5 separate regions of the Homo sapiens genome follow, and regions 1, 3, 4 and 5 are each linked to region 2. Evidence: fine-mapped expression QTL. A gene starts in region 2. Each other region holds a variant in brackets. All regions are shown on one strand. Distances are between the middles of the regions.

Region 1 (6,112 bases), 150 kb after region 2:
TGTATGTGAACCCGTGGGAGATAGGAGATTTGTTTTTTTTCCTTCCCGGTACTGTATTTTATATTATTATCATTATTATTCCCTGTCGCCCAGGCTGGAGTGCAGTGGTGCGATCTTGACTTTTGGGTTCAAGTGATTCTGCTGCCTCAGCCTCCCGAGTAGCTGGGATTACAGGCACCTGCCACCACACCAGGCTGATTTTTGTATTTTTAGTAGAGACGGGGTTTCACCATGTTGGCCAGGCTGGTCTCAAACTCCTGACCTCAGGTGATCTGTCTGCTTCAGCCTCCCAAAGAGCTGGGATTACAGGGGCAAGCCACTGGGCCCAGCCTCTTTCCCAATATTTTAAAACCTGTGAAGGGAGATTTGTTTATGTTGTTTAATTTGTTTCTATTGTGCACATCAAATTTCTGCACAAAAGGGGGAGGATACCAATACAGGCTGATGTGAAAGTCAGTAATAGGCAAGCAGAGCTTCTCCCGGGAGCCGGGGGGGCGGGGGTGAAGGGAGTGCAGAGGGTTCTGCGTTTGCTGGTGCTTGGATAAGGTGGCCAGGTTTTCCTCCTTCTTTTATTATTATTATTATTATTATTATTTATTATTATTATGTTTTTAACAGAGAGGTGGGGAGGTCTCACTGTGTTACCTAGGCTGGTCTCAAACTCCTGGGCGCAAGCAGTCCTCCCACCTTAGCCTCCCACAGTGCTGGGATTCCAGGTGTGAGCCACTGTGCCTAGCCAGGGTTTTCCTTCATAAGTCTGACCTATCTAAATGGTATTTTCCACAGTTAGACTTTGTAAATTGTCTTCATGAGGAAGCAGTTGTGAGGTGTCTGTGAGTCCCTAGATAAAACACATCAGATGTTGCTGAACCCTACTGGAGAGAGGGAGGAAAATACGCAGTTAGTTCATCTCAGCCTGAGCACCACTGCCTTGATAGGGAAAGAGCCCTCCTGCATTCCCAGTCACCAGTGAAAGAGGGAAAAACAGCATTAAATTTAGAGCATCGTGGCTGCCCTCCTGCTGTGGAAAATTGGATACATTTGTGTAACATCGTAGGGGCAGTTTTGGGTTGACTTCATTAGAAACACATCCTAATTTGGGGTTGTGGAGTTTGGCCTGTTTCTTTTTGCTTCCCTCCTGACCACCAGCATATGGGGCTGCTTCTCCAGTGCTCTGAAAAGCTCTTGGCTGAGATGGCCCTGGTCAGCATGGTCTAGCACGGTGCCGCTGAGAGCAGCAGGTGCAGGGCTGCCCCAGACAAGGGACTGTGGCATTGCTGGGCCTGTTCCTCCTGTTCTCTCTCCCCCAGTCTCCCAGGGATGCTTTAGGTACCTCTCTAGTCCCTTTCATCCAGAAACTTTTCTTTTTTTTTTGAGATGGAGTCTTGCTCTGTTGCCCAGGCTAGAGTGCAGTGGTGTGATCTCAGGTCACTGATCTCAGCTCACTGCAACTTCTGCTTCCCAGGTTCAAGCGATTCTCATGCTTCAGCTTCCCGAGTAGGTGGGATTACAGGTGCGCACCACCACACCCGGCTAATTTTTGTATTTTTAGTAGAGACAGGGTTTCTCCATGTTAGCCAGGTGGGTCTCGAACTCCTGACCACAAGTGATCCACCCGCCTCGGCCTTCCAAAGTGCTGGGATTACAGGCATGACCCACCACATCTGGCTGACACTTTTTTAAAAAAAAAGCAAAACTGTGCCCTTTGGAAGTAATACAGAACCGATGACTCGCTGCTTACTGCGAGATCGTATCTCACTGGTGTGCAAATCTGTGCAACGCTAGCTTGAAGCACAGCGGGCGGGGGGTACAAGGACAGTGTTGGGTGGGCTGTCCTGCATATGGCACAGGAGGTTCTCCCAAGTGGGGTGGTGGGGGGCTTTGGCCTGACTCCAAGCACGGCCACTCCGGAGAGGAGCCCTCCCCAGGCCCTGAGAACTACGCAGGAACCCGCGGGCCTGCACCAACCTAAGGACGGATGGGAATCCTGGAAAATGCCCATCCACTGCAGGCTTCCCCTACAAAAGAACATTTAACCCAACAGGGCTTGTTGAAGTTTGCATTATCATCTGCGGAATGACAAATGGTATTAAATAGTCCTCACAGCCCTCCACGAACCCCTGGAGGACACCTTGGGATGCCTCAGGGGTGGCATTGGCGGTTTGAGCATAGAAAGGATGCTGTGGTTGGAAGGCGGAGGTAGGAGTCAGAGGGAGCTTCTTGAGGCCTCTGCCTCATCCAGGATGTGGGATCATGGAGGCTCCTTCGAGTTGGGTGGCTGGCTAGTGCCTTTGAGTCAGGTTCCCATCCAGAGGGGAGGGCAGGGGACACGTCAATCAGGGTCTGTGGCTGGAGCATGCTTTGCGATTTCAGCAGACTGTTCATCTTCCAGAATTGAGCGGGTGATGGACAACAACACCACGGTGAAGATGGTGCCCATCAAGATCGTGCACTCGGAGAGCCAGCCAGAGAAGGAGAGCCGCCAGAGCCTGGCATGCCCCGCCGAGCCACCTGCCCTGCCCCACGGGCTGGAGAAAGACCAGATCAAGACGCTGAGCACATCTGAGCAGTTCTACTCGCGCTTCTGTCTGTACACGCGGCAGGGTGCTGAGCCCGAGGCCCCACATAGGGCCCAGCCGGCTGAGCCCCAGCCCCTGGGCACCCAGGTGCCCCCCGAGAAAGACCGCTGCACCTCCCCTCCAGGGCTCAGCTACATGAAGGCCAAAGAGAAGACTGTGGAAGACCTGAAGTCGGAGGAGCTGGCCAGGGAGATCGTGGGGAAGGATAAGTCCCTGGCCGACATCCTGGATCCCAGTGTGAAGATCAAAACCACTATGGACTTGATGGAAGGCATCTTCCCCAAAGACGAGCACCTCCTGGAAGAAGCCCAGCAACGGAGGAAGCTGCTCCCCAAAATCCCCTCTCCTAGAAGCACAGAGGAGAGGTGAGTAGGCGTGGCCTCCCAGCTTGGGCGTGACTCTGCCTGGCATCTCTTAGGCTTGTAAAGGGAAGGGGGTCTGCCTCTCTGTTTTCATGCGTGCTTTTGGGGAAGACGGGTTTTCATAAGGGCTCCTCGATGCTTAGCACTTTTTGGCTTTTTTGTGAGCCTCCGGAAAGAGAAATGGAGGGTTAACGGCTTTGGGCCTGACATGAAAATACACACTGCAGACCACCAAGCTGCCTTGGCCTGAGGCCAGCAGGATTTCTGATGATGCCCACAGGTCTCCTTTCTCGTAAGACAGCTGTTCTCAGTGGGGGCCGCTGTCTACCCTGGGGGACAGTTGGCAATGTCACTGTGGGGAGGGGTGTTCCAAGCATCTGGTGGGTGGAGCCCAGGAACACTGCTCAACATCTACAGTGCACAGGAGG[GC/G]CCCCCCCACAGAGAGTCATCCAGCCCCCACGTGTCCCTAGTGCCAACATGAGAATGAAGGCTTAGATTGAATATATATGTGTTTCTTTATGAAATGTTTTTTTAAAACTTTATTTGAAATTTTTTTACATCTGCATTTAAAAAATTTATTATAATTTGGCCAGGCACAGTGGTGCACACCTGTAATCCCAGCACTTTGGCTGACCGAGGTAGGCAGATCATTTAAGCCCATGAATTCAATACCAGCCTGGACAACATGGCAAAACCCAGTCTCTACAAAAAGTACAAAAAATTAGCCAGGCGTGGTGGTAGACACCTGTAGTCCCAGCTACTCGAGAGGCTGAGGTGGGAGGATCACTTGAGCCCAGGAGTTGGAGGCTGCAGTGAGCTATGATGGTGCCACTGCACTCCAGTGTGGGTGACAGAGTAAGACCCCATCTCTTGAAATAGAAATGAAAAAAAATTACGACAATTTACACCTGCCTGAACAAATGTATTTTAATTGGTTTTGTAAGTAGCACTTTCAGCGTATCTCCTTCAGCCACTTGACCACAAAGGCATGCGTGGTGGCATCTTCCCTGCTGCTGACATATGTTCTGCCAGCACAGCGTCATTCATGGGTAGGAAGGTGGAGTGGGTATGACACACAGCCAAGGAGGAGCAGCTGGACCAAGTGGACCCAGGCAGGAGGGCGCCGACAGGGCTGCTGGGAGGAAGGGAGAAGGGTTGGTGTTTGTAGATAGCGTCACACATGTCCTTGTCCTCATCAACCCAGGCTCCTGGTAGAGATCATCTGTGCTCTCACCTCTGTAGCAGAGATTCTTAGATATTCCTGCTTATTTGAGTTTTTGCCTTTTTTAAAAACTATGTTTCATACACTTACGAGTATCCATTTGACAGGGTTGATGGTTTTTAGTTTTAACCTTGTTACCTACTTACTTTTCCCCCTTTGGCTGTCTCATCTCCCTGGCTGGTGTCCTTTCGTGAGCACCAGTGTTGATTTGTCACAACCCAGGGGGTGGGGCAGAGGGGCTGTTTGCGTGCACAGTCCCAGCTCATTGAAGTTCCCACACCTTTACCCAGGAAAGAGGAGCCCAGCGTGCCTGCGGCCGTGTCCCTGGCCACCAATTCTACCTACTACAGCACGTCGGCCCCCAAGGCGGAGCTGCTGATCAAGATGAAGGACCTGCAGGAGCAGCAGGAGCACGAAGAGGATTCGGGAAGCGACTTGGACCACGACCTGTCGGTGAAGAAGGTAGGAGAGTCCATTCCAAATGACAGCGTGTGCGTGTCCAGGCAGGGGCAGGCATCCGGATCACACCATCCTGCCCCAGCGCAGACCCTGCACCACGTGTCCCAGGGCGTTTGTGTTCAGCTTTCACTCAGGACAGTGGAATTTGAGGTGATATTAGTGAAGCCCTCTGTTGTTAGTTCTATGTCCTAATCTTGAGCCATTCCACAAACGTCTCTTTGCTGTTTCAATAGGATCCAATGTCAAATTAGTTTAGTCACCATTCTCTTTCATTTTATCTTATTTATTTATTTTTGAGACAGGGTCTTGCTCTGTCGTGCAGGCTTGAGTGCAATGGTGCAATCATGGCCCACCGCAGCCTTGACCTCCTGGCCTCAAGCGATCCCCCTGCCTCAGATAAAGGAAAATTATTTTCAAATTAGAAAGTGGTAACTTTTTTTTGAGATAGAGTCTCCCTCTGTCACCCAGGCTGGAGTGCAGTGGCACACTCTCAGCTCACTGCAACCTCTGCCTCCCGGGTTCAAGCAATTCTCCTACCTCAGCCCCTCGAGTAGCTGGGATTACAGGCACCTGCCACCAAGCCTTGCTAATTTTTGTATTTTTAGTAGAGATGGGGTTTCACCATGTTGGCCAGGCCGGTCTCGAACCTCAAGTGATCCACCCACCGCAGCCTCCCAAAGTGCTGGGATTACAGGCGTGAGCCACTGCTTCCGGGCTGGAAGATGGTAACTTTTTGGTTCAAGGTATTAAAAAGGGAAATGAAAATTAAGGGTTTAGGTCTTGGGGCTTTTACGGGCCCTCCATCTGGCACACGGTACCATTCGCTTCATTCTGGTTGCACATTCCTCTTTTAAAAAATAATAAAGAATCCAAAACATGTTCGGTTTTTCCACACAGAACCAGGAAAATCATACCATCTGGACCATTTGAATTTGGGTCACACCCTAGGTTTAGAGAACTGCATTCTTTGCTCGCATGCCTTTGTTTTTCATGATATAATGAATTTCAGAAGCGGCATGCCTTGATTCTGCCGCCCTCATCTGTGGGGCACTCTGTCCACCTGCTTTGGGAGGCTGGAGATGCTGGGAAGCCGCCTCACCAGAAGTGTGGCTCCGGAACTGAGTGAGTCACTGTGGGCTGGAAGTTGGCCTCACTTTAGTTCAGCAAGTGTGAGTTGGGCACCTGCACCAGAAGCACATGCTGTACATCCCAGCTCTCTATGGTGCTGATGACTCAGCGGTCCTGTTTTCCTGCTTGATTGGACAAAGCGGCCACTGCTGCATTACATTTTCTCCCTGCTTTCCCGCAGCCACACGCTTATGATGTCGCACATTCCTGCAACGCGTGCACAGGCGGAGGCGTGTTCAGGGAGGAAGCGAGCATAGCGCAGATGGGGACTTAGCAGGCCACCTGCTCTGTAGCTGCTTCAGGGGAACATATGAGACCCTAATTCCGTAGGCTTCCAACATTCCCAGGGCGACCACAGTTGT
Region 2 (6,112 bases):
AGAGTTTGAGACCAGCCTGACCAACATGGTGAAATCCCATCTCTACTAAAAATACAAAAATTAGCTGGACAAGGTGGCGCATGCCTGTAATCCCAGCTACTTGGGAGGCTGAGGCAGGAGAATCACTTGAACCTGGGAGGCAGAGATTGCAGTGAGCCAAGATCTCACCATTGCACTTCAGCCTGGGCGACAAGAGCAAAACTCCGTCTCCAAAAAAAAAAAAGAAAAAAAGAAAAAGAAACAGTGGCCAGGTACAATGGCTCATGCCTGTAATCCCAGCACTTTGGGAGGCTGAGGTGGGTGGATCACTTGAGCCCAGGAGTTTGAGACCAGCCTGGACAACTTAGTGAGATCCTGTTTCTACAAAAAATAAAAAATTAGGCAGGCATGGTGGCATATGCCTATAGTCCCAGCTACTTAGGAGGCTGAGGTGGGAGGATCACCTAAGCCTGGGGCAGTCAAGCTTCAGTGAGCCATAATCGTGCCACTGCACTCCAGCCTGGGTGACACAGTGAGACTCTGTCTCAAAAAAAAAAGAGAAAAAAAAAGAAAAGAAAAGAAAAGAAAAAGAAAAAGTGAAACAAACACCTAAGGCTACTGAATCCCCGGGGCAGGCGCTCATAGGGTCACACTCCTTGCAGGTCCAGAAGAGAGTATATGCTCACCCTATTCTCTGAGCAATGAACAACCACAGTGAGAAATTACACAGAACAAACATGCCCCTCAGCTTTCCAAAAGGACAAAAGACTAACATGGACAAATGGATTCTGCTTCTGAAAATTCCACCTGAGTTGTGAGTTCTCAGAAAAGAAAGCCATCTACTAGGAGTCCATACACTGGTTCAACGTCATACTAAAACTCTCCCAATGGGGGTGCAAGACTGATCAACTGGGGTGATGCCTTTCAGCCACAAGATATATTTTCACAAGATTATTGACAGTGTCTTGTGATGACAAAACAAACACAATATAGAAGTGCTGTCATCGCACCTAGACCATAGTAACCCCAAGAATATCACAAAAGGATTTATGACTGAGCAGGCACCTGTCTCATAGCAGGCCACACAAATCTTGGTTCAGTCCCTTACAGCATAACATCATTATAGACAGCAGCCTTATAAATATTCCAACCATCCTGAGATGGATGCTTAATGTGAAGATTAAAAAAACAAAACACCCCAGCTAAACACTGTTTAGTAAGGATGGATGTAAATTTCTAGCTAAGTTTAAGAACAAGGGAGTCCTTTTAAAAAGTATAAACCTTTCAAGTGGCAGATGGGTAATCTGACAATGATTACGTACGGTGAACATAAAATGTTAAAGATGACTTTGGGGCTATATAGAATAATGCTGGATTTATGGAGACAATGAAATCACTGTCTCTGCTTTATAATGAGTCTAGTGGTCTGAATTTTAGCCCCAGGTAAGAGCTTAGACTGAAGTCTATACCAGCTTGGGGTGGGGAGGTAGGGAGTGGGCTGTTTTGGGAGACGGACATGTCTGCAAACTCTAATAAGCACACTGGGTATATTTATACAGCTCTTTATCTTTTGGTTTATCATATCCATCCATTTCTTAAACTTTGTGAGATAACTGGATTTACATGTAGTTGTAATGTGTCCAGAGTTGGTTCCTTCCGGTGGGTTCTTGGTCTTGCTGACTTCAAGAATGAAGCTGCAGACCTTTGCTGTGAGTGTTACAGCTCTTAAAGGTGGCACAGACTCAAAGAGTGCGCAGCAGCAAGATTTACTGTGAAGAGCGAAAGAACAAAGCTTCCACAGCATGGAAGGGGACTGGACCGGGTTGCCACTGCTAGCTGCAGTGGCCAGCTTTTATTCCCTTATTTGACCCCACCCACATCCCGCTGATTGGTCCATTTACAGAGTGCTAATTGGTCCATTTTACAAACCTCTAGCTAGCCACAGAGCGCTGATTGGTGCATTTTACAATCCTCTTGTAAGACAGAAAAATTCTCGGAGTCCCCACCCAACTGGCTTCGCCTCTTGGTAAGGAATAATACAGGGAAGTCCTGTGCACCCTTCACTCTTCACCTGCCTGTTCCAATGGCAACACGTTACAAAACTACAGCACAATGTCACAACCTGGAATATGGACATTGATACAATCCACCAAGCCTTTTCAGATTTCCCGTTTCACGTGCATTTAGTTCTGTGCAATTTAGCTTAATCAACTTGGCAGCTCCTGTGACCATCACCACAGTGAAGATACACTCGACTTGATTCTGAGAGGCACATTCCTTAAGCCTTCGTTTAATCTTTGAAAAAGAAAAAATCGCCTCATTCTTCTAACTAAAGGCATTCAGAGACTGTAGTTAGAAGTTAATTATGGGGCAGTCACCACGTGCCCAGCGCCATGACAGGTGCCCAGTGGAGCTGCGACTCTGAATTTAATCGGCTGCATGAGACACCTCCACAGAATGCACCCCTCTCACTTGACCTCTGAAGAAACAGACCAGAGCTGAGATTTCTTGTCCCAGCTTGACAGTGGCAGAACCCAGACCCGGGGACCCTTGACTCTCTGTCCAGTGCTCTCCCGGCCTGTCCTGGATGCGTACTCCAGCATCGTCACCTCTGAAAAGGGCCTGGATGGAGCTGCTTAGAGAAAAGAGGTGTTCACCAGCCTTCAGCTACGTATAGAAACAGCAACGAAAACAGCTTTTTTGCAAAGCATGTAAATACCTATCCATGCAGGTACTTTAGACCAGAGTTTCATGGAAACTGAAACCGAGCAGGAAGAGGTGGCACACATGTTGTCCGCAAACTTTCACCAATCCCAGACCTCCACCTCCCCTTTTCGGGGATGTAAACCTGGGAAACTTGAAGACCTTGTGGTCCAATCCTAGGCGAGTGGGGACAGCATCTAGACGCAACGGCTTTCTGCGCGGTGGCTGTGGGAGGCCTCTGCGGGAAGGTGGGAAGGCCCTCGTGGAAACGGGGCACGGTCCTTCTGCGCCCGCCTTCCAAGCCCCTCCAGAGGCCGGACCCGCGCCCGGCTCAGGCTGCTGGGGGGCGCCCTTCCCGGCTCTCTAAGTCCAGAGTGTGAGTGCGCGCAGGGCCGCGCGGGACGGGCGGTCCCTCTGCCCCGGGGCAGCGGCCACAGCGCGGGCACCAGGGCCTCCCGCGGCGCTTCCGCTCTCACCTGCGCGGCAGCCCGCGGTGCGCGAGAACAAAGTGTGGGCGCCGGCGGGCCGCGCGCCCCGAGACGGAGGAGGCCGGAGACTCCCGCCACGCCACCCCGCGCCCATCTCACCTGCCGCCTCACCTGCCCGGTCCTGGCCTCCAACCGGCGGGCGGGGGCGCCCAGAGCTTCGAAGCACTGCAGAGCTCTGGCGCGGGAGGAAAGGCCCGACCTGGCGCCGGGGCCTCCGCCCCCGTCCTCGCCCGCGCTGGCTCCGCCAGCCCCGGGGCGCGCGCTCCTCGACCCCGACCCCGAACCCGCTGAACGGCGCGCGCGCCTGAGCGCCCCTCCCGGCCCGCTCCCCTCCACCGGGCGAGAGAACCGGGGCGCGCCCCTCTCCAGCTCTCCCCGGTACGAGCGGCCGCGTGGGCCCCTGAGCGCGCACCTGACCCCGTCCCTCACCCTTCGGGCCGCGGGCTGGACCTCTGGACGCGCTCCCCGTGACCGGCCCCGCGGTACGAGCTCCCGAACGCGCCCGCCCCGCCCCCCGTCGGCCCCGCCCCCTCCCCGCCAGCCCCGGCCCCGGCCCCGGCCCCGGCCCCGCCCCCTCCCCGCCAGCCCTCCGGGCTCCCTCCGCCGCCGGGCCGGCACTTTCTTTCCAAGTTACGGCGCAAGTTCTGCGGCGCTCGGAGCCTCCCTTGCGATCCCACGGCCGGGACTGCCCGGAGTGCATGGGCGCGGGCCAGGGACGCTGAGCGGTCGCGCCATGGAGGGCGCCGAGCCCCGCGCGCGGCCCGAGCGCCTGGCCGAGGCCGAGACGCGGGCGGCGGACGGCGGGCGCCTGGTGGAGGTGCAGCTGAGCGGCGGCGCCCCGTGGGGCTTCACCCTGAAGGGCGGCCGCGAGCACGGCGAGCCGCTGGTCATCACCAAGGTAAGGCGGCCGCGGGGCGCGGGCGCTGACAGCCGGGAGCTGGCCGCCCTGCGGGGCGCGTCGAGGTAGGGGCGCGGGAGGGGCGGTAGGCTCGCGCCCCCGGGTCTGGCGCGCGCGTCTGCTGGGGTCACCTGCCGGGCCTGGGCGCCGGGACCGGCGTGGGCGTGTGATCCTGGCGGTTCCCCGCGCCTCGCAGAGTTTAAATGGCTCCTGCCCGGAGTCCCTTTCCCCTCCCCCTCCCTCCTCCGGGCAGGGGCCTGGCCGGGTCCTCTGGCGCTCCCGGGCCCGCCAGTGGCGGCCTGCACCTGCGGGGCTGCCTGGAGGCCAGCGAAGGAACGTGTCCCCGAGCCGTCCCCACCTATGTTTGCCTCTCTGGGGTCCCTGGTTCGGCACCCCTTGGACCCGTGCCTGTGATCACTACGAAATCCAGAGTAGCAGCTGTCGCCAGCGCAACTTCTCGATTCCCTTCAGCCCATCAATGTTTACTGACTTTCGGCTTCCAGTCCCAGATCCACTGCGCACTGGATACCTGCGCAAACTTAGAGAAACCTGAAAGCCTGCTTCCTAAGAGCAGGACCCGAGTTCTAATAATAATAAAGAAATTCCAGATGTATCTCATCAGGAATGTTGTGTGTGTGTGTGTGGTTTGCTTTAGAACATTGAATTTTATTGTCTCAAAACAAAATCCATCTGGAAACTTACCAGTTGAACCTGTATGAACTTGTAAAAGCAAACACATAAACAACAGTCCAGTCACCCTGTGTTCTAGTTAAAAGTGTGTAGTGGTCATTTTCTCTGGGAAGGGTTGAGTCGGACCTTTCGTGTGGACGAAGTTCCTTTTAAAATGTAAAGATTCTTGGCGACTAGAAGCGTTTGAAGATAATTTACTGGTTTTCTCGGCTTTCCTGCCTCTCCACAGCAGGAAGAAATTAAGTGATTCCTAACCCGCCGCACTGGTAATCAGTTTGGGAAGTGGGATGGCTTTGTTGTTCAAATAGCAAATGAGACACCAGCGTCTTCCATTCTATATTTTCTGTCGCTTTTATGATTACAAAACTTTGTGGAGGGATTTGGAGAAGCCTTGTTTAGCTTTGCACTAAATTTTTGTTGAACTCAGGAAAGAGGTTGCCATTGTTATAAATTTGACCAATGTGTAATCTTTTATCACACTGGCTTCTTTGGAAACATGGTGGACAGTCATAAAGTGTGTATACTCTGCCCAGCCAGAACACTCCTCTTTTTTTTTTCTTTTATTTCTTTTCTTTTCTTTCTTTCTTTCTTCTTTTTTTTTTTTGAGACAGGGTCTTGTTCTGTCAGCCTCCTGAGTAGCTGGGACCACAGATGTGCGCCACCATGCCTGGTTAATTTTTTAAAATTTTTTGTAGAAACGGGGAGTTTCACCATTTTGCCCAGGCTGGTCTCGAACTCCTCTGCCTCCCAAAGTCCTGGCATTACAGGCATGAGCCACTGCGCTTGGCTCAGAATGTGGATTAATCCAAGCTTTGAATCTTCCTCTCCCAAAAGCTACTGAAAAGTCACTGGGGCTCATTAAAAAATAGCTCTTCTAATCGTTTTTTTTTTTCCACTTGTAATTAAATAGTTACATATTAGAGCCCTGGAATACTGTACAACTCACTTGCTATTTAGCAGACTCTGATTTGGGGATAGCTTGCATTAAGGTAAGAGCGCACCTTCTCTTTATGATAATGAGGGTATCATTTGAAAGCCTCATGGGAGTGCGTGTAGTAGAACTGGGAGGGGTGTCAAGAACAAGGCTGGTTCGGTCCTGGTCTTCAGATGGAATTTTATCAGCCCATTTTATAGATGAAACAGCTGTGGCCCAGGCAGGGCAAATGGTGTATCCTGAGGTCACAAACTGTTGAGTCCTGGGAAAGGCCCTAAGAATCAGACTCTGGCCCCAGTGTTCAAGCCTGCTGCTCCCCTTCAGTCAGTGCCATCTGCTTGGGTCTGGGATCTCCTGCAATGCCATATTGAATACCTTCGTCACATCGGTTAGGTGAGGGTTTGCCAGCCTTGGCATTGG
Region 3 (6,010 bases), 160 kb after region 2:
TCTTTAAATTAGAAAATTCCAAAGGACAGAATACATAGGTCTGTGACTCCTTCCAAAGATATGGGTTGAAACTGCATCTACCATGACGAGCATCGGGGCCACAACTCCGACGTTCTCTAATAGGGCATGAACAGAACGAGAACAGGTTTATTTTATTTTTAAATGCCAATAGTGCCATTAGGAGTCATTCTTCTTTCCCTTAGTCGTATAAATCCCCTATTATTTGGTGATGCAAAAGTGAGCTTTCACGCAGGTCAGCTGCACCTTTCACGTAGGTGCGCCAAGGTGGCAGTGAGCAGTGTGGCCGGGGTGGGGGCCGGCCTAACCAGTGTCTCCGTGTTCCCTTGCCATCCCGTGCCCAACAGCAGGAGCTCATCGAGAGCATCAGCCGCAAGCTGCAGGTGCTCCGGGAGGCCCGCGAGAGCCTGCTGGAGGACGTGCAGGCCAACACCGTGCTGGGGGCCGAGGTGGAGGCCATCGTGAAAGGCGTCTGCAAGCCCAGCGAGTTTGACAAGTTCCGGATGTTCATTGGAGACCTGGACAAAGTGGTGAACCTCCTGCTGTCGCTGTCAGGCCGCCTGGCCCGGGTGGAGAATGCCCTCAATAATTTGGACGACGGCGCTTCTCCCGGTGATCGGGTAAATGCAGATACGTCTGACTTGGAAATGGGGGGTGGTCTCGTGGGAAGGCTGTTTTTCAAGTGTCGTGAAAGTCAGCTCCTTGGAGCCTAGCATAGCTTCCACATGGCCTGTCCACCTCCTCCTGCAGACCTTGTCGAGACAGTGCACGCTCTATACCCTCTCCTTCCTTTTATATTTCTTTAGTTGTTTGTTTGTTTGTTTGTTTGTTTGAGACAGGGTCTCATTCTGTTGCCCAGGCTGGAGTGCAGTGGTGCGATCTCGGCTCACTGCAGCCTCTGCCTCCCGAGGTTCAAGAGATTCTCCCACCTCAGCTTCCCGGGTAGCTGAGCTCCCAGGTGCATGCCACCATGCCTGGCTAATTTTTGTATTTTTTTGGTAGAGATGGGATTTCACTATGTTGGCCAGGCTGGTCTGGAACTCCTGAGCTCAAGTGATCCGCCTACCTCAGCCTCCCAAAGTGCTGGGATTACAGGTGTGAGCAACTGTGCCTGGCCTCCTTCCTTTTAATTGAGGGGAAAAGGTGCTTATCAGATGCAGGGAGTTGAACCGTCATTGGACTGCAGGGTTGCGGGATCTTCTCAAAGAACTGTTACCTCTTTTTAACATCTTTTTAGATATTCCTATTGACTCTTACTGATAATTGTCTCTTCTTAGAAAAATCATGTTGTTGTTGTTTTTACTTTTCTTTTACCATGTATAAGTCCGTAACAGACATGCCTGCCTGCTGACGATCGTAAGTACTCAATGATAGCTATTTTCTTGTGGTGGTTGTAGCTGTGATTTAACAAGAGGGCATGTATCAGTCTAGAAGGAAGCAGACAGTGCATCTAACTTCAAGGCGTTTCTCAGTGGGTCTGTCTTTTCGTCCTTTCACATATGAACCAAGAGAAATAATAGCTGCCTCGTTGGCTTTTACCTCATAGGCCAAATATCAGTAAAACAGCTAGTTTTGTTTGCACAGAACAGGCCTTCAGAATGTTCATCTGTATCATGAATAAAACATCTTAACCTCTCTCAGAAGGGGAGCAGAAGAAGCACCCTTCCCCTTTCTCCAGGTGAGGGTGATTTGGGCCACGCAGAACGCTGTCCTGGCGCTGGGCTTGGAGACGGTGCCCTTCTGCACTCAGCCGAGTGCTTAGTAACTGTGTCGTGGAACTAGCTAGGTCAGGGTGGCACCGTGCCCGAGGGGGCTGCTGGCCGACACCCGTGCACAGCACTGCGTCTTCTCCACCCTCAGGCTTCCTTGTGTGCAGATATGCTCTGCAGGCTCGGGGGCTTCTCCTCCTCCTGCCAGGAGCATTTAGTAAGCCTACCCTGAATTCCTCTCGAGTCCACCCATGTGGCCAGCTGTCCCACGGTGTTCCCATGGAGCGGACCTTGACGCCAAGAGGGCCCCGCAGTCCTTTGCCCTTTGCAGCATCTCAGAATTCTGTCGTTGTGAGTCCCTTGGTGACTCTTCTGCTCACCATTCGAGGCAGGTGGGAGAGAGTCAGGCTCAGACAGCAAGAGGAAACCCAGAGAGGCCTGTGGGCGGCTTCTGGGGGCCTCAGGCTGGCCCGCTGCAACCATGAGACACATGCCCCCAGGCCCTGGGCCCTGGGTTTGTCTGTGTGGACCCCATCGGATCTCTGGTGGCATCAGGGTTTCCATCGATAAGTTGTGGGACCAGCCCACAAGTTGCCAGTGTCTTCAAGGGTTGGCCAGTGCCCCAGCTTTCATCCTGGTCCTCAACAGGCTTGTTTGTCTGTCAACAGCAATCACTGCTTGAGAAGCAGAGAGTCCTGATCCAGCAGCACGAGGACGCCAAGGAGCTCAAGGAGAACCTGGACCGCCGCGAGCGCATCGTCTTTGACATTTTGGCCAACTATCTGAGCGAGGAGAGCCTCGCGGACTATGAGCACTTCGTGAAGATGAAGTCGGCCCTCATCATCGAGCAGCGGGAGCTGGAAGATAAAATCCACCTTGGTGAAGAGCAGCTGAAGTGCTTATTGGACAGCCTTCAGCCCGAAAGGGGCAAATAAGAGACCAGTCCCCGGTGGAGGAGGGGCACGGGGCCTCCGAGCTCCAGCTCCGTTCCCAAGGATACTCGTGAAGACCCCATCTGTGTTCATGGCCTGGAAAGAGACTTCTCCCATAGCAAAGAGGCTGTTATAAAAGCAATAACTTTTGTGTTTGTGTGGGATGATTTATTTAATTTTTTAGTTTCCCCTTTGATTGCTGAGAGCCATTTTCCTTTACACATAACTACACCTGACACCAGGCTCTGCTGGATGTGAGTTTCCACTGCATGGGCTGTGGGCTGGGCCTGTGGTGCCTGCCGAGTGGTCACTGTCAGTGGGAAACCCGTTGTTCCTCCCGTCTTCAGATGCTGAGCCAACTGCTTGGACAGCAGCCAGCGCGTCATGACGTGCATGAGAGGGGGACCCTGGTGCTCATCTTCTCTTGTCATTCATCCAGGCATGGGCTGCCAGGTTTTGTCCCTGCTCGTTCAACAGTGTGAGCATTTGTCTCTGTTATCTAATGATGTTCTCTGACCCAGCAGAAATCATCATCATGATGATGATAATTTATTAACTTTTTGGAAGGGTGAATAGTTTCCTAATGGTTAAAAACCAACTGTGAAAGGAACCACCTGTGTGGTTGGGTTCACTCATTCTCAGATTAAATTGCCACTTAAAGAAATAACGTGCATGCTTTAAAAAACACAGTCACGCACCAAGCAGGCAAATAGCTTTAGTCCTTCTCACCTCACATCACAGTTGTTCTGCAAAGTAAAATTTTTTGGTTAAGAGCGTGTCCAGTAGTAATGTGCTTGTTAGCTGTTTCTCAAGACCAACAGAAGATTTTTTCAGTTACTTTCCCCCCATGTATTTTGTATGCATATGATTGTCC[G/A]TGATAATTGGCTACTTTTCCATTGTTTCCTCCTTAAATCGTTTAGCATGGCATGAGGGCCACATTCCATGGACGGGAAGACCCCTTCCTCTTCAGAGGTCCCGTGGACTACACAGCTCCTGAGCTTGATCTTTTTCTGCCATGAAGTTTAAAGATTCTATGCCCATTTCCTTGATTGAAATGGCAGGATTCTAAAGAGAGCCTGGTTTGTTAAAAGAAAACACTGTCATGCTGTCAGTTCCCAATTGACAAGTCACAGACTGGGAGAAAATATTTGCAAATCGTGTATCTGACAAAAGGTTTGTGTCCAGGATGTACAAAGAACTCTCAAACCGGATAGTAAGAAAACAAACAGCCCAAGTGAAAAGCAGGCAAAAGACTTGAATAGACACTTCACCAAAGAGCATACACGCGTGGCAAACAAGCACACGAAAAGACGTTCAGCCGCCGATGGCTTGGTTATAATTTATAACTTACTTATTTTTATCTAATAATTGTAGATTCAGTGTATTTCTTCAAAAAATGTTTAATTAAATGCATGTTAATGGTGAGTGAATCCCTTGGGTGACTTCGTGTTTAGGTCGTATTAGGGCATTTGTTGGATCAACGGATCATTTTAACCCTGACTTCCCCTTATTCCCATAAAAGAAGTTTTCCAGTGGAATGGAGATTTCATTTTGTCAGCAGCAGTGACCACAGCCTTACCAAAGCAGACGCGTGCGCGTGCACAGATGCACACACACAGATGTCTTAAAAGACTAGAATCCACACTTCCTGAGCCAGAGGGGCCGTGTTGACGGTAATGCATTCTCTATAGAGCCAAGTCCAAACTGGCAAGCTCAATGATGCAGGCAATAAACCGCCTTTTTGGCAGCCTACCAATGCCAAAAGGATAAATGTCTTTCCAAAAGTGTGTATTCCTGTTAAATTAAGCTCTTGCTAACTTGAAAAATCCCTGTTCTGCCAGCGAAGCTTCCTCCTCCTCTCCAGCTGGTAGTCACTTGCGTGAATGCTGGTCAGTCTGAAAAGGTGAAGCTGGCTGTGCACTTACCCCCATCTTTCTCCCTCGGGGAGACGACCCAAGGAATTTCAGAGTATTTTGTTTGGCAGAGCTTTTACCTGTTATTCTTTGCCCTCAAATACAGTATTGTGGTCATTTTGATGATATGTGTGTAAAATGTGAATAATCCAATTGGTGTCTGTACTCAGCCTTTTGATGTCTTTTTAGGACTTTCTCTTCTACACAGCAATACGTCGTGCTCGAGTATCCTTGTAGCAAAGCACATAGAGCCAGCTGTCCTGTCAGTTCCCCTGTTTGCCTCTGAAACGTCTGGTTAGTGGGGACCCAAAGATTCTAGTGAGTCAACATCCATAACTCTGTATCTAGTTGTATTATTCATAGAAAATCAATCTGGTGCTAATGGTTGGCCCTGGTGTTGTTGGGTGGCAGCTGCTCCTTCGCCCTCTTGTAGTGTGGCTGTGGAGGGCTCTGCCTATGGGGGGTGGCCTGTGGCTTGTATCCTTCAGTCCACCACAGCAAATGTGTGTAGATTTCATGCTCGACACTTACCACTCACCTATCAACAGATCATCCTGCTTGACTGTAACAAAATAAATAGTGTCTCTTCAAGTGAATGGAGATGTCTTTGATTTACCTACTTTACAGCTTTTGTAAAAAAAGAATGTCCTCACCATACGTCAGATTCTTAAGCCATCTGAGTAAACCGTGGGATTGATTATATGTGTGTAATTTATTTACACTAGTCGGTTTGTGGTGAGGAAACAGGGACCAGGTCGCATCACTTAGCTGGTGCCCCAGTAATGCTGTGTAACAAACTGTAAAATGTCAGCAATAATCTGTGCAACAAAGTATTGACTTAGCTCATGAATTTGTAGATGAGCTAATTCGGGCTGGGCTCTGTGCTGTGTGCCTCTCCTCTTCCTCATGGGACCAGCCGTGTGGCTGGATGTGTTCATGGCAGGGGCACAAGACAACACACCCTGTCACAAAGGGGCTTCTCCTGGCTTTGTCCTGTCATACCTGCTAACCTTCTTCTGGCAAAGCACATCTCCTGGCCAACCCCGGCACCAAAGGGTGTGGAACAGGCTCCACCTTTTAGTGGAGGAACCGTAAATTCACATGGCAGAGTGTGGACACAGGGAGGGATGAAGAACTGGGGCTGTCCATGGGCTCCATCTCGCCCGCCTCCTCGTGTCTACTGATAATGGAGTGGCACCAAAGTGGCTGGGACCACGGAGTCAAGTTGCCTGGAGCAAAGCCACCTCTGTCACTGCTAGTTGTGTGGCCACAGCAAGTAACCCAGCCTCTGTGAGCCCCAGCTCCTCTCTCGTAATTGGAGATGGGCTGCTGTGAGGTCAAGTGAGTTGATAAATGTTGGTGTGCTTAGACGCCATGCTTGGTTCACAGCACGGCTGCATAAGCTGTGAATACGGCTCTTATCCTGTTGTGCACCTGG
Region 4 (6,112 bases), 120 kb after region 2:
CCACCCAGATTGGGCTGAGGTGACACAGACATCCACCCAGAAGGCTGTACAGATTGATAACCGATTGATTCATTCAAAGGGTCTTGCTCTGTCACCCAGGCTGGAGTGCAGTGGCACAATCATGGCTCACTGCAGCCTCAACCTCCAAGCTCAAGTGATCCTCCCGAGTAGCTGGGATCACAGGCATGCGCCAGCACACCTAGCTAATTAAAAAAACAAAAAAAGTTTTTGTAGAGAAGGCCTTGCCATGTTGCTCAGGGTGGCCTCAAACTCCTGGCCTCAAGTGATCCTCTTGCCTCAGCCTCTCAGAGTGCTGGGATTACAAGGGTGAGCCACCACACCACACCCAGCCAATGTGTTCATTTTTAAAGTTTGACTTAAGAGTCCCATAGATTCAGTGTCTTATGTGGCAGTTAGGTCCTTGCAGTTAGTCTCAGAAATCGATTTAGCTCATCTGTTTTCTGAAGGCCCACACATTTGAAATAAAAAAGGAAATAGTTCTGAGTCACCTCCTTCTCAATATAAATAGAAAATGCATTCAAATATTCCCACAAGTTTTGTGTCTTTTAAATCTGCACAAACCCAAAGAATTCCTAGAGGAGGCCGCCAGAGCTAGCAGCACGTGTCAGGTCTGCATCCCACCGGGCCAGCTGAGCAACCCGCTTCAGGCCCCTGCATACCACACAGCTCACCACCGCCTCCAACGCCAGGAGAGTCCAGAAGGCCGGAGGGCGAGGGAGGACTGACGCGTGGGCGGTGACGGCGCGGGAGCCAGTGATGTATTTCTGCTTTGGGCTTTCTCGCACGTGGCACTTGGAGCACATCCTTGGGAACATGTCTGTCCTCTTTGCCAGTTTAAATTTTTGTGTGTTCGTTTCCATACTAGCTCTTAGAATCTAAATCAAGTGTTGTGGATGGTGTGCAAGACCATGGCTGTGTATGTGTGTGTGGGAGTCTCATTGACCACAGTGCTGACACAGTTTCCCTTGGTGGAAGTAAAGAGTAAGTTCAGGACTCCCCTGTAAATGATGTGCTCCCCATGGATGAGGGACAGGAAGAACATCAGGGTACCGTGCCAGCAGAGCTCTGTGCCCTGTTAGTCGAAACAAAAGTGATGGCTGAGATGAGTCCTTCTGTGGCACCCAGGAAACTTTGATAGCTGGGCCAAGAAGCAGCGGCACTGCAGTGCCCTGGGCCGCGAGCATCATGGTTTATGCTCAGCAAAGCCACATCACCTGTCATATAGACCTGACATCAGCTTTACAGTTTTGCTTGCATATAACTTGCAAATTTTGTTTTGTGTTTTATAGCCTAAGAACCATTAAAATAAGGAAACAGATTTTATATAGAGACATTTAGCAGTCTAATAAAAAAAAATAAAAATCACATATTGTATGATGCCATTTATATAAAATGTCCAGAATAGGCACATCCGTAGATAGAAAGTAGATTAGTGGCTGCCAGGGGTTAAGAGGGGAGAAGTGAGGGAGAGACTGTTCATGGGCGTGGGGTTTCTTTCTGGAGTAATGAAAATCCTCTAGAATCTGATAGTGGTGATGGTGACTGCTGTGATATACTAAAAACTACTGAACTGCGCTGTTTCAAAGGGCACATTTTATGATATATTTTATCTCAGTCTTTAAAAAAAAATCTCAACACTGGGAATCCATAAGAAAACTTTTTTTAATTTAAAATGGGTCTGTCAGGCAGGGCGTGGTGGCTCACGCCTGTAATCCCAGCACTCTGGGAAGCCAAGGCGGGTGGATCACCTGAGGTCAGGAGTTTGAGACCAGCCTGGCCAACATGGTGAAACCCCGTCTCTACTAAAATATTAGCCAGGTGTGGTGGCAGTCACCTGTAATCCCAGCTACTCAGGAGGCTGAGGCAGGAGAATCGCTTGAACCTGGGAGGCGGAGGTTGCAGTGAGCCGAGATCGTGCCATTGCACTCCAGCCTGGGCAACAAGAGTGAAACTGTCTCAAAAAAAATTAAAATAAATAAATAAATAAAATGGGTCTGTGCATTAAGCAGCTGTAGTTCAGAGATTGACAAAGTTTGCGGAAGATGAGATGATAAATATGTTTGGCTCAGAGGAACATAGTGTCCCTGCTGCGACCACTCAGCTCTGCCGTGATAGCGCAAAAGCAGCCACACGGTGACCAGGTTGCCCTCCCTGCAGGCCTGCTAAGAGGACTCTGGCTAGATTCCAGCCCTTGCTGGTCCCCCTGGCGTTGGGGCAGGGGGGAGGCGGGCAGCATCCCTACTGTCCCACCGGACCCAGCAGCCACAGGGGCCTTTCGCTTCTCCACATTCCTTCCTGCCCTGCCCTAAAGCAGGAAGCAAGACAAGGAAACCTCTGAGTCAGGTATGTGGATGTCCTCTGCAGAACTCGCCTGGTCCCTTCCTTCAAGTCATTTGTTTCTTTCTGTGAGTCAGCCCTGCCTCCTGTTTACCAGGCACAGGTAGTTTTACCTGTGGCTCCCTGAGCAGAACTGGAGCCGGTGTAACACAGGCTGTGTCTCTGAATAGAAAGTCTCCACACTGCCGTGCCGCTCTCCACTCTGTGTTTGCCCACTGTATGCACCAGAGCACCCTCCCGGCTCCCCTTCTCCTAAGCAAATCCCACACACCTGCATCCCATCCTTCCTCAGATCACTTCCGGAATCATCTGCAGAGTTTGGGTTTCATGGTTTGTGCGACACTCTCAAGCAGCTCACCCAAATCGGGTGGTGTCAGATGGTAAAGGGTTGAGGGGTCTAGGTCAGGGTCACTTGGAAACAAGTTCCTGGGGGAGCAGAGCAACTTTCTTCTCTACTTGGAAGAATATGATAAAGCACCCCTAGACTCACTGGTTTCGAGTTCTAGGGAAGCAGATATTGATGACTCAACAGAGGAAAGGATTGTGTAATCATTGCTTTAGTCAGGGGTTAGCAAACTATGGTCCACAGGCCAACTCTGGCCCCCTGTCTGTTTTTTTAAATAAAGTTTTATTGGCATGCAGCCACATCC[G/A]TTTGCTCACAGGCGGCCTGTGGCTGCTCCCTCTCTATAATGGCAGAGAGTTGAGTCATTGCAACAGATCGGATGGCTCCTAGGGCTGAAAATATCTGCCATCTGGTCCTTTACACAAAGGTTTGCTTGCCGACCATGTTGGGCTTAGTGGAGGGGTGTAAGGGATGGTCTTACATGAGTGTGCTTCCAGCACAGGGAGCATGGAACCCAGTGGCAGTCTGTCTGGATGTTTTCAAAGAGGCTTCTTTGTAATAGTTCGCGATTATCTTGCAACATGATATCCATCTCCCCATCCCTAGTGTGGTTAACTTGGGGAAGTTTGCTTTGTCCAAGTAGAGGGGGCTGTAGCTTGTTCACAGCCCAAGAATGCAGGAGCACGCAGGATGCTGGAGCACCAGCTTTTCTGACTTGTTAGTGATAGCCTGGGTTAGGGAAGGTTGTCCTTGGACCACATGGGCTGGGCATGCCCCTCAATTCATGGAAAGTGACTCAGAAAAGTTCAAGGTTTCACCAAGACTAAGAGGTGAGGAGGAAGTTCTTTCAGAACATAAGGGTACTAGGGTGGTGATTTCATTCTGTTCTTTTTTTATGTGTGGACTTTTTCAAGGGCACAAATGTTTTGTGTCAATTAAAAGCAGATTTGTATGCATTTTGTTACAATGATTATGATTTTAAAGTCTTAATAGTATTATACTATACAATCTACAAAAAGATTTGAGCATCTTATAAGCCCTGATAATTATGCCTCGCTCTAAGAAACATGGGTATCTGGAAAGCCACATTATAAACTTTAATATTATAAATGTGCTTTCTGTTTAGAAGGAATTCTTGGAGGGTCTCCTTTAAGAGTGGATTCCTAGGCCAGGCACAGGGGCTCATGCCTATAATCCCAGCACTTTGGGAGGCTGAGAGGATTGCTTGAGCCCAGGAGTTCAATACCAGCCTGGGCAACATAGTGAGACCCCATCTCTACAAAAAAAATTTAGCTGGGCATGGTGGTGCACCTGTAGTCCCAGTTATTTGGGAGGCTGGATTGGGAGGATCGCTTGAGCCTGGGAGGTCAAGGCTGCAGTGAGCTATGATGGTGCCACTGCACTTCAGCCTGGGTGACAGTGAGACCCTCTCTCAAAAATAAATAAATAAATAAATAAATAAATAAAAACAAAAATAAAAAAACAGGATTCCTAGAGCACAGCCAGCATGCAGAACTTGTTTTCTAAGGCTTTTCTCCAATAAAAGGAACCAGGGCTCCTCAGAGGAATGACTGAGTCTAGGGTTGGGGCAGGGACTGTACAAGATGAGCCTGGAGTATCTTATAGTGCCAGAAAATAAGCGCTCAAATACACCCATATGTAAACCCAGCGGTGACAACAGTGTGGGTATGTCATAGGGACACAGGAACCAACAATGACCAAAGGCAGAACAAGTTAAGCAGCAAAATTAAGTAGTAGTGGATTATAATCCAATATATAAAATGAATCCACAGCCCAGACTGATACGCAGGATGGTTGAATAAATTAACAAATGAAGAATAGAGAAATCTGCTGTGCAGAAAATTGCAAATACTTTATGTAGCTACTGTGCCCTTAAGGAGGTGGAGCATAGCTCCCCCGCTCCCCGCTCAGTGTGGGCTGCCAACAGTAAGCTCCCTCCAAAGAGTACAGTGTGGCAAAGGGGACCGAGGAGAGGAACATCACAGTGGAGAAACTGGTGTATACCAACTTCACCAGGCGATCAGGGCCAACGTTGACAGGTAAGTCACATTGACAGCATGCCCCTTGATATCATAGGATAACAGTGGCACTTCACTTCCATGGTCTCTCTCCCAGAAGTCCCAGGCTAATCATAAAAACACATCAGACAGTTCCCAATTGAGAGACATGCTGCAAAATGCCGGAACAGACCTCTTCAAAACTATTAAGGTCATCAAAAACAAGGAAAGCCTGAGAAACTATCATAGCCTATTCAGGCTGCTATAATAAAACACCTAAGATTATATGATTTATAAACAGCAGAAATGTATTTGTCACAGTTCTGGAGGCTGGGAAGTCTAAGATCGAGGCACTGGCAGATTCGGTGTCTGGTGAAGGTGCTTTCTGGCTCACAAATGGCTGTCTCTCTGCTGCGTCCTCACATGATGGAAGGGGAGAGGGAGCTCTCAGGGGTCCCTTTTATGAGGGCACTAATCCCATTCGCAAGAGCTCCATCCTTATGACCTCATCACCTCCCAGAGGCCCCACCTCCTAACACCATCACCTGGGGGTTAGGTTTCAACATAGGAATTTGGGGGTGGGGGGCACAAGTGTTCAGTCTAAAGCTATAGCACCCTCACAGCAAGAGGAGTCTGAAGAAGCAGGCCTGAGTATGATGCAGTACCTGGATGAGGTTCAAAGACAGAAGGAGAACATTGATTAAACAGAAAATTTGAATAAAGTGTGACCTTTAGTTAATATTAATGTACCAATATTGATTCATTAACTATGACAAACACACCCCATAGTAAGTCAGATATTAATAATAGGGGGAAGTGGGTAGAGGGCATATGGGAGCTCTCGCCTGGCTGTTGCAATTTTTTAGTAAATCTAAACCCATTCTAAAATGAGATGCTGGCCAGGCGCAATGGGTCATGCTTGTAATCCAAGCACTTTGGGAGGTTGAGGCAGGAGGATTGCTTGAAGCCAGGAGTTTGAGACCAGCCTGGGCAACATAGCAAGACCCTGGCCAGGTGCAGTGGCTCACGCCTGTAATCCCAGCACTTTGGGAGGCTGAGGCGGGCGTATCACTTGAGGTCAGGAGTTCGAGACCAGCCTGACCAACATGGTGAAACCCCGTCTCTAATAAAAATACAAAAATTAGCTGGGCATGGTGGCGTGCACCTGTAATCTCAGCTACTCGGGAGGCTGAGGCAGGTGAATTGCTTGAACCCAGGAGGCGGAGGTTGCAGTGAGCTGAGATGGTGCCACTGCGCTTTTGCCTGGGTGACAGAGTGAGACTCCATCTCAAAAAAAAAAAAGTATAATGAAATATTTATTTTTTACAAATTTTTATGTAGAGACCAGGTCTTGCCATGTTGCCCAGGCTGGTCTCCAACTCCTGGGCTCAAG
Region 5 (6,112 bases), 63 kb after region 2:
CAGCTATGTAACTCGCTACCCAGATCAAGAGATGGAACATTCCTATTTATGTTTTAGGAATGTTCTAGCTCCCCAGGGGTGCCCTTGAGCCTCCCCAACCCCCCAAATATAGGACTGTCTTGAATGTCCACACTATAGATGAGGTTAGCCTCTATTTGGCCTTTATATAAATAGCATCATCTAGTATGGACTCTTTTGTGTCTAGCTTTTTCAGTCAACATTACTTTTGTGAGATTCATTCATATTGTTTCTGGTGGCAGTTGTAGTTTATTCATTTTTGTTGCTGTGAACCTCAGTTTGTTTGGTTTTGGTTTTGGTTTTTGAGACAGGATCTCACTCTGTTGCCCAGGCTGGAGTACAGTGGTGCCATCAGGGCTCACCGTAGCCTCAAACTCCTGGGCTCAAGCCATCCTCCTGCCTCAGCCTCCTGAGTAGCTGGGACCACAGGTGCATGCCACCACGCACAGCTAATTCTTTTATTTATTATTATTATTTTTGAGACGGAGTCTCGCTCTGTCACCCAGGCTGGAGTGCAGTGGTGCAATCTCAGCTCACTGCAACCTCCGCCTCCCGGGTTCAAGTGATTCTGCTGCCTCAGCCTCCTGAGTAGCTGGGACTACAGGCACGTGCCACCACACCCAGATAATTTTTTTGTATTTTTAGTAGAGACGGCGTTTCACCGTGTTAGCCAGGATGGTCTCAATCTCCTGACCTCGTGATCCGCCTGCCTCAGCCTCTCAAACTGCTGGGATTACAGGCATGAGCCATCACACCCGGCCAATTATTTTATCTTTTATAGACATGGGGTCTTGATATGTTGCCCAGGCCGCTCTCGAACTCCTGACCTCAGGCATGAGCCACTGCCTCCAGTCTGTGTGTTTTTCTAAAGAATTCTTAGTGGCTAAGGAAGGTTAAGACCTTCCTATCGTCTCTTTCATCTTTCCCCAGAGATGAGCCATTTTGAACATGGATTTGGCATCTGTGCCGCCTCTGAGCCCATGCTTGGCTGATCTGTGGTTGGCGTCTGCCTTCCAGAGAATTCCTTGTTTTCCCACAGTCCCTTTGCAGCTGTTTCATGGAGCACGGGGACGCATGCTGGCTGCTGCCACCAGCTCTGATGGCTATGAAGGTTTGAGACGAGTCTCATAGGTGAAATCTGGGCTCTAAGACAGCCCACCTTTTGAAAGGACAATTCAGCCACCAGAATATCATCTTCGATCTGCTGGTTTTCTCATTTTGGTTTCCAAAAGCCTTTAGCCATTGTTATTATTCCGTGCTTGTCTTGGTGTTAGCTCAGTATCCATGAAACCCGACAAACCTCTTTCTAGAATGAGGCCGGCAAACCAGTCTCATAATGTTCAACCCCAGTGAAGAGGAACTAAACCTCAAAATTGTTGTACCACAAACTCTATTGGCCTTTTATTGGTGGGGATTTTGTTTTTATTACAAGAGGGGTGACTGCTACAGTGGCCTTTCCGGCACCAGGCCGTGCCTGACGGATGAGAATGCTGTGTCATAAACAGTCTTTTGCAATGACTAACCGTGCTGGGTTGGAATGCAGTGCACACCAAAGGAAGGTAGGACTTTTAGTGGTTGTCACAATAGCTGTGCGAATCCAAATATGGCTGGAAAATGTCAACATACTCTCCAGATTATCAGCTCCGACGAATGTAAGAGACATAGTGTTAGGGGGATGTCTGGATAAGTTGAACTCTAATCAGAGGGAAAAGGGGGTTGGAGGAATAATGAATGAGGGAAACACTTTTATTGGGAGAATAGCTTGCAAAACGGCCAGTTGCATAAAGTGTCCTGTCCTAAGAAGTCCTAGTGTAAGCCTCGGCCAGTCCTAAAATATGAATGAGACCTAGGACTTATTTTACGTATTGCTGTTATCCTTACTAGCACTTTTGGAGTCTGCATTCTGGTAATGCCTAAATGCTTGTGCTGAGTTACATGTGGAAACAGCTCTACACAACATTCCCTAGTCTCTTGGACACTTACAGTGTTGGCCAGTCCTTTTCTCGTGATTTTTTCCCTCTGATTTACTCGTGTTGTAACAAAGTTATCACTTTTTTATTGTTTCTCTTTGCTTTCATCCTTTGCATCTGTGGCTGCTCACTTGCTATGCCCAGGGAAGGGGAAGATGGAGAAATAGATTATGGATATGGCACTCCAGGGCCTGTTTACCAACAACCTGAAAAGCTTATATTCTCAGCAGGTCAATACTCCCCATGTCTGAGGGCGAATGTTGTGTGGATTAACAGGCAAAACATGTTGCATAGATTTGCAGATCCACGTTTACAGATTCCCCACTGTATACTGAGGCCATCGAGGAACCTGAATTTGTGTATCCCTTGTGGCTATTGATATGTTGCTGAAGTCAAGTCAGGTATGTATTGAAAAGCATGGCCGGGCGCGGTGGCTCACGCCTGTAATCCCAGCACTTTGGGAGGCCGAGGCGGGTGGATCATGAGGTCAGGAGATCGAGACCATCCTGGCTAACAAGGTGAAACCCCGTCTCTACTAAAAATACAAAAAATTAGCCGGGCGCGGTGGCGGGCGACTGTAGTCCCAGCTACTCGGGAGGCTGAGGCAGGAGAATGGCGTGAACCCGGGAAGCGGAGCTTGCAGTGAGCCGAGATTGCGCCACTGCAGTCCGCAGTCCGGCCTGGGCGACAGAGCGAGACTCCGTCTCAAAAAAAAAAAAAAAAAAAAAGAAAAGCATGTTCTAAGTATCTAAGTATTTAAGTTCTACATGTCTAGAGATAAAACTCTCTTTATACGGGGATGTGAGGAGAGGAACTAGGAGGAGACTTTATCATGTGCTGATTTATGCTCTGCCGGTAATGAGCCATGCAGCCCTAAGCATGTTACCTCATATCTCTGGGACGAATAAAGTGTCTGTCCTTTGGCCAATTTTTTAGCTTCC[C/T]GAATCAGTTTATCGACAAGATGGGGACATGCAGGTGTATCTGCCAGGGTTAGGGGAAGCTCTCAATAGTAACGTGTGCTGAGAACCAGCTGGTGCCCTGCGTGAGTGCAGCGCTCCGTGAAGAACATTGTGTTATGAACTCCTGGGATGCCTGGATTCCCTTCCATTCATCCACTTTGTTCACCTAAAGGGCCAGAGCAAACAACCGTCCACTCAGGTAAACATTCCCACCCCAGAGCGACCGTTTGCATCCTCCAGGAGTTAACAGTACAGCTGGACTCACCCGTGGGTCTCCTGGAAGGCACTGTGTCGGAAACCGAGCTTCTCTCCTGCTTCCCTTGCTGTGGCCTATCTGGGAATCTATAGTCTGGAGCATCCCAGGGCGGCCTCCTTTGGCAGATGGTGTAGGAGTGCTGCAAGCCCTCCTGGATGCACCCAAGGACCCAGGAAGATGGGAGCGTGGATCTCTGTGCCTCAGCACAGAGGCTGGGAGGAGAGACAGCAGGCGCCGGCTGGCAGGAGCAGTCCATGTGGGAGCTTCTGTGTACTCCCACCTCTGCTTCACCTCCTGTTGATCTCTCCTCCCTCTGCAGCACATTCTGCCCTCCTTCCCCAGACTCCTCCCCACAGTTCGCCCTGAAACAAACCTTTCCATGGGATTGATTTTAGAGGCTGCCCATGTGGGACCAGGGCTGCAGCTTCCCTATGGGGGTGCTGGTGGCCTTGTGGCACTTGCTAAGCTGGGCGGGCGTGGCTAGGAGTTTGAGCAGTAACCAAAGTTTCCTCTCTGCTGAGTGCTCCTGGGGTCCATCCCTCTGGGGTGATGGCAGGCAGCTTTACACGTCGCCTTAGAGCATGTCTTTATTTGCTCCTGGATCAAGAACCTTTTGCCATCAATGTAGGGCTGAGCACCCCCACCACCACACATGCCCTGTCCAGATATCTCGCTCTGGGGTAGAAGGAGGCAGTTGTGGGAAGAAGTTTCCTCATCACATTAGCTCTAGGTAATTTCAGAGAACTTTGCCAATCTCTTCCCTAGCTTGTAGGTACAATGAAGATAACACCAGCAGACAAGATAGGATACTCTTTCTTGAGTTTAAAAGGCATCAAAATAGTTGCATGCAATTTAGCAAGGAATGGATACATTAGATTGTATTTAAGAGAGTGCCTGTTGCTGTACAGTTTTTAACAACACGTTGAAGCAGAGCAGGTACCTCTCAGATACTGTTTTGGTGGGGAGGATTGGGGACAGTGGTTTCCTGCTGTCACACTGGGGAGAACTGAAGGAGAGAACACTGCTGCACCTGAGCGGAGACTGACACTTTTGAGGTGAGCACCCTGAACCTTGGGTGTGTATTGTCCCTCTCATACCTGCTGGGCATCTTGGGGCCAGGCTGGGCTGCGTGGCAGCTCTGTGGGATCATTCCCGTCTGCAGCACCCGGGGGCGCTGCTCATTGTGTAGACCAAAGGCCAGCCAGCGGAGATGCCCACTTGCTGACCTTCTTACATGCCTGCTTTTCTGCTACAAGCTGTCATTTTCTTTTATTGATTGGTTGGCTGTCATTTTCTTTTATTGATTAATTGGTTGGTTGGTTGACAGGCCACATCACTGCAGCTTTGGTATAGTCACTTCTCTAATCTTTCCAAAAAGTCGCTTCAGGTTATGAAGTGAGTTAGCGGCCTGCTCCCTGGTTGCTCCATGAGAGTTCGCCCTCTCCTCACAGTTGTACAGCGGGCCAGCATTGTTGTTTGGCTTCCTGGCTCATATGCCCCTTCTCTGTGGCACCCCATGTCCTTATGAAAATGACCTAAGCCAGGCGTGGTGGTGCACGCCTGTAATCCCAGCACTTTGGGAGGCCAAGGCGAGTGGATCTCTTGAGCTCAGGGAGTTCGTGACCACCCTGGGCAACATAGTGAGATCTCGTCTCTGCAAAAAATACAAAAATTAGCCAGGTGCGGTGGCACACAGCTGTAGTCCTAGCTACTCAGGAGGCTGAGGTGGGGGGATCACTTGAGCCCAGGAGGTCAGTGAGCCGAGATCGTGCCACTGCACTCCAGCCTGGGCTAGCGGATAAGACTCTGTGTCAAAAAAAAAAAAAAAAGAGAAAACAAACAGAAAAACTTGTACCCTGGTATTGATAAGTCTTAATGGGAGGGCCCCTGCCTCTCACCACAGCCTTCCGGAAGTCAGCCAGATCCCTTTGTTTCCAGCCCCTGGTAGACCAGCGTGGCCTTATGATCCCCTCTTTGTCAGTCTCATCTCTTCCTCTCTCTTTTTTTAGAGACAGAGTCTCACTCTGTCACCCAGACTGGAGTGCAGTGGCAGAAACACAGCTCACTGCAGCCTCCACCTCCTGGGCACAAGTGGTCCTCCCACCTCAGCCTTCTGTGTAGCTGGGACTGCAGGCACACTCCACCAAGCCTGGCTAACGCTTTTAATTTTTGTAGAGATCAGGTCTTGCTATGTGGCCCAGGCTGGTCTTGAACTCATGGCGTCAAGCAGTCCTCCTGCCTTGGCTTCTCTAAGTATTGGGATTATAGGTGTGAGCCACCATGCCTGGCCTCTTTTTTTATTTTGAGATCATTATAGCTTCAGGTGGCAATACAGAGAGATGCCATGGGTCCTGTACCCAGGTTCCCCACGTGGCAACAGTACCTTTTTTGTAATATGATGGTAACAATGTTTCAACCAGGATATTGCTTTTTTTTTTTTCTTTTTTTTTTGGATAGAGTCTCATTCTGTCATCTAGGCTGGAGTGCAATGGCGTGATCACGGCTGACTGCAGCCTCAACCTCAGCCTCCTGGGCCCAAGCAATCCTCCTACCTCAGCCTCCTGTGTAGCTGGGACCACAGGTGTGCGCCACCACACCTGACAAATTTTTGTATTTTTTTTTTTTTTTGTAGAGATGGGGTGTTGCTGTGTTGCCCAGGCTGGTCTCAAATTCCTGGTCTCCAGTGGTCCTTCTGCCTTGGCCTCCCAAACTGCTGGGATTTTACAGGTGTGATATTGACATAGAGACCGTCAAGACACAAGACATTTCCATCCCAAGAGGTTCCCTCACATTGCCCCTTTTAACTTCTCTCTTGCTATAAAGATATCAAGTTCAAAACTTTATTATATAGTAAAACTCTGTTAATCAATTGTTGACCGTTTAAACTGGAATTTAACTGAGAGCCAAGG

Direction of the effects. Positions count from the first base shown, and alleles are read on the strand shown. Sizes are in standard deviations (SD) of each study's normalised expression. Not every link is listed here.
For the expression in sun-exposed skin of the gene that starts at base 3,787 in region 2, allele A in region 3 goes with a higher level than allele G (small effect, 0.18 SD a copy in GTEx).
For the expression in fibroblasts of the gene that starts at base 3,787 in region 2, A is the low allele of the variant in region 4 and G is the other (small effect, 0.20 SD a copy in GTEx).

Evidence for each region. PIP is the estimated chance that this variant, and not a neighbour inherited with it, causes the effect. A credible set is the group of variants that fine-mapping cannot tell apart.
Region 1: its variant is the best candidate, but not a certain one, in a credible set for the expression of SHROOM2 in lung (TOPMed, PIP 0.61).
Region 3: its variant is the best candidate, but not a certain one, in a credible set for the expression of SHROOM2 in sun-exposed skin (GTEx, PIP 0.68).
Region 4: its variant is the best candidate, but not a certain one, in a credible set for the expression of SHROOM2 in fibroblasts (GTEx, PIP 0.90).
Region 5: its variant is the best candidate, but not a certain one, in a credible set for the expression of SHROOM2 in sigmoid colon (GTEx, PIP 0.78).

The regions. Positions count from the first base shown.
Region 1 is chrX:9,934,742-9,940,853 of GRCh38, forward strand. It overlaps SHROOM2 (shroom family member 2), which reads left to right. Exons shown (of 10, transcript NM_001649.4): 7 at 2,393-2,944; 8 at 4,454-4,625. Among named protein-coding and RNA genes, the nearest start is that of CLDN34, 30 kb to the right of the region's middle. RefSeq lists enhancers at 4,622-5,821, 5,906-6,112. The variant GC/G (reference allele first, on the strand shown) is at 3,370.
Region 2 is chrX:9,782,643-9,788,754 of GRCh38, forward strand. It overlaps SHROOM2 (shroom family member 2), which reads left to right and starts at 3,787. Exons shown (of 10, transcript NM_001649.4): 1 at 3,787-4,068. The coding sequence starts at 3,904.
Region 3 is chrX:9,944,276-9,950,285 of GRCh38, forward strand. SHROOM2 (shroom family member 2) reads left to right here. Exons shown (of 10, transcript NM_001649.4): 9 at 366-638; 10 at 2,396-5,168. The coding sequence ends at 2,662. Among named protein-coding and RNA genes, the nearest start is that of CLDN34, 20 kb to the right of the region's middle. The variant G/A (reference allele first, on the strand shown) is at 3,534.
Region 4 is chrX:9,904,808-9,910,919 of GRCh38, forward strand. All of the region lies in intron 5 of SHROOM2 (shroom family member 2), which reads left to right. Among named protein-coding and RNA genes, the nearest start is that of CLDN34, 59 kb to the right of the region's middle. The variant G/A (reference allele first, on the strand shown) is at 3,009.
Region 5 is chrX:9,845,816-9,851,927 of GRCh38, forward strand. All of the region lies in intron 1 of SHROOM2 (shroom family member 2), which reads left to right. Among named protein-coding and RNA genes, the nearest start is that of SHROOM2, 62 kb to the left of the region's middle. The variant C/T (reference allele first, on the strand shown) is at 2,930.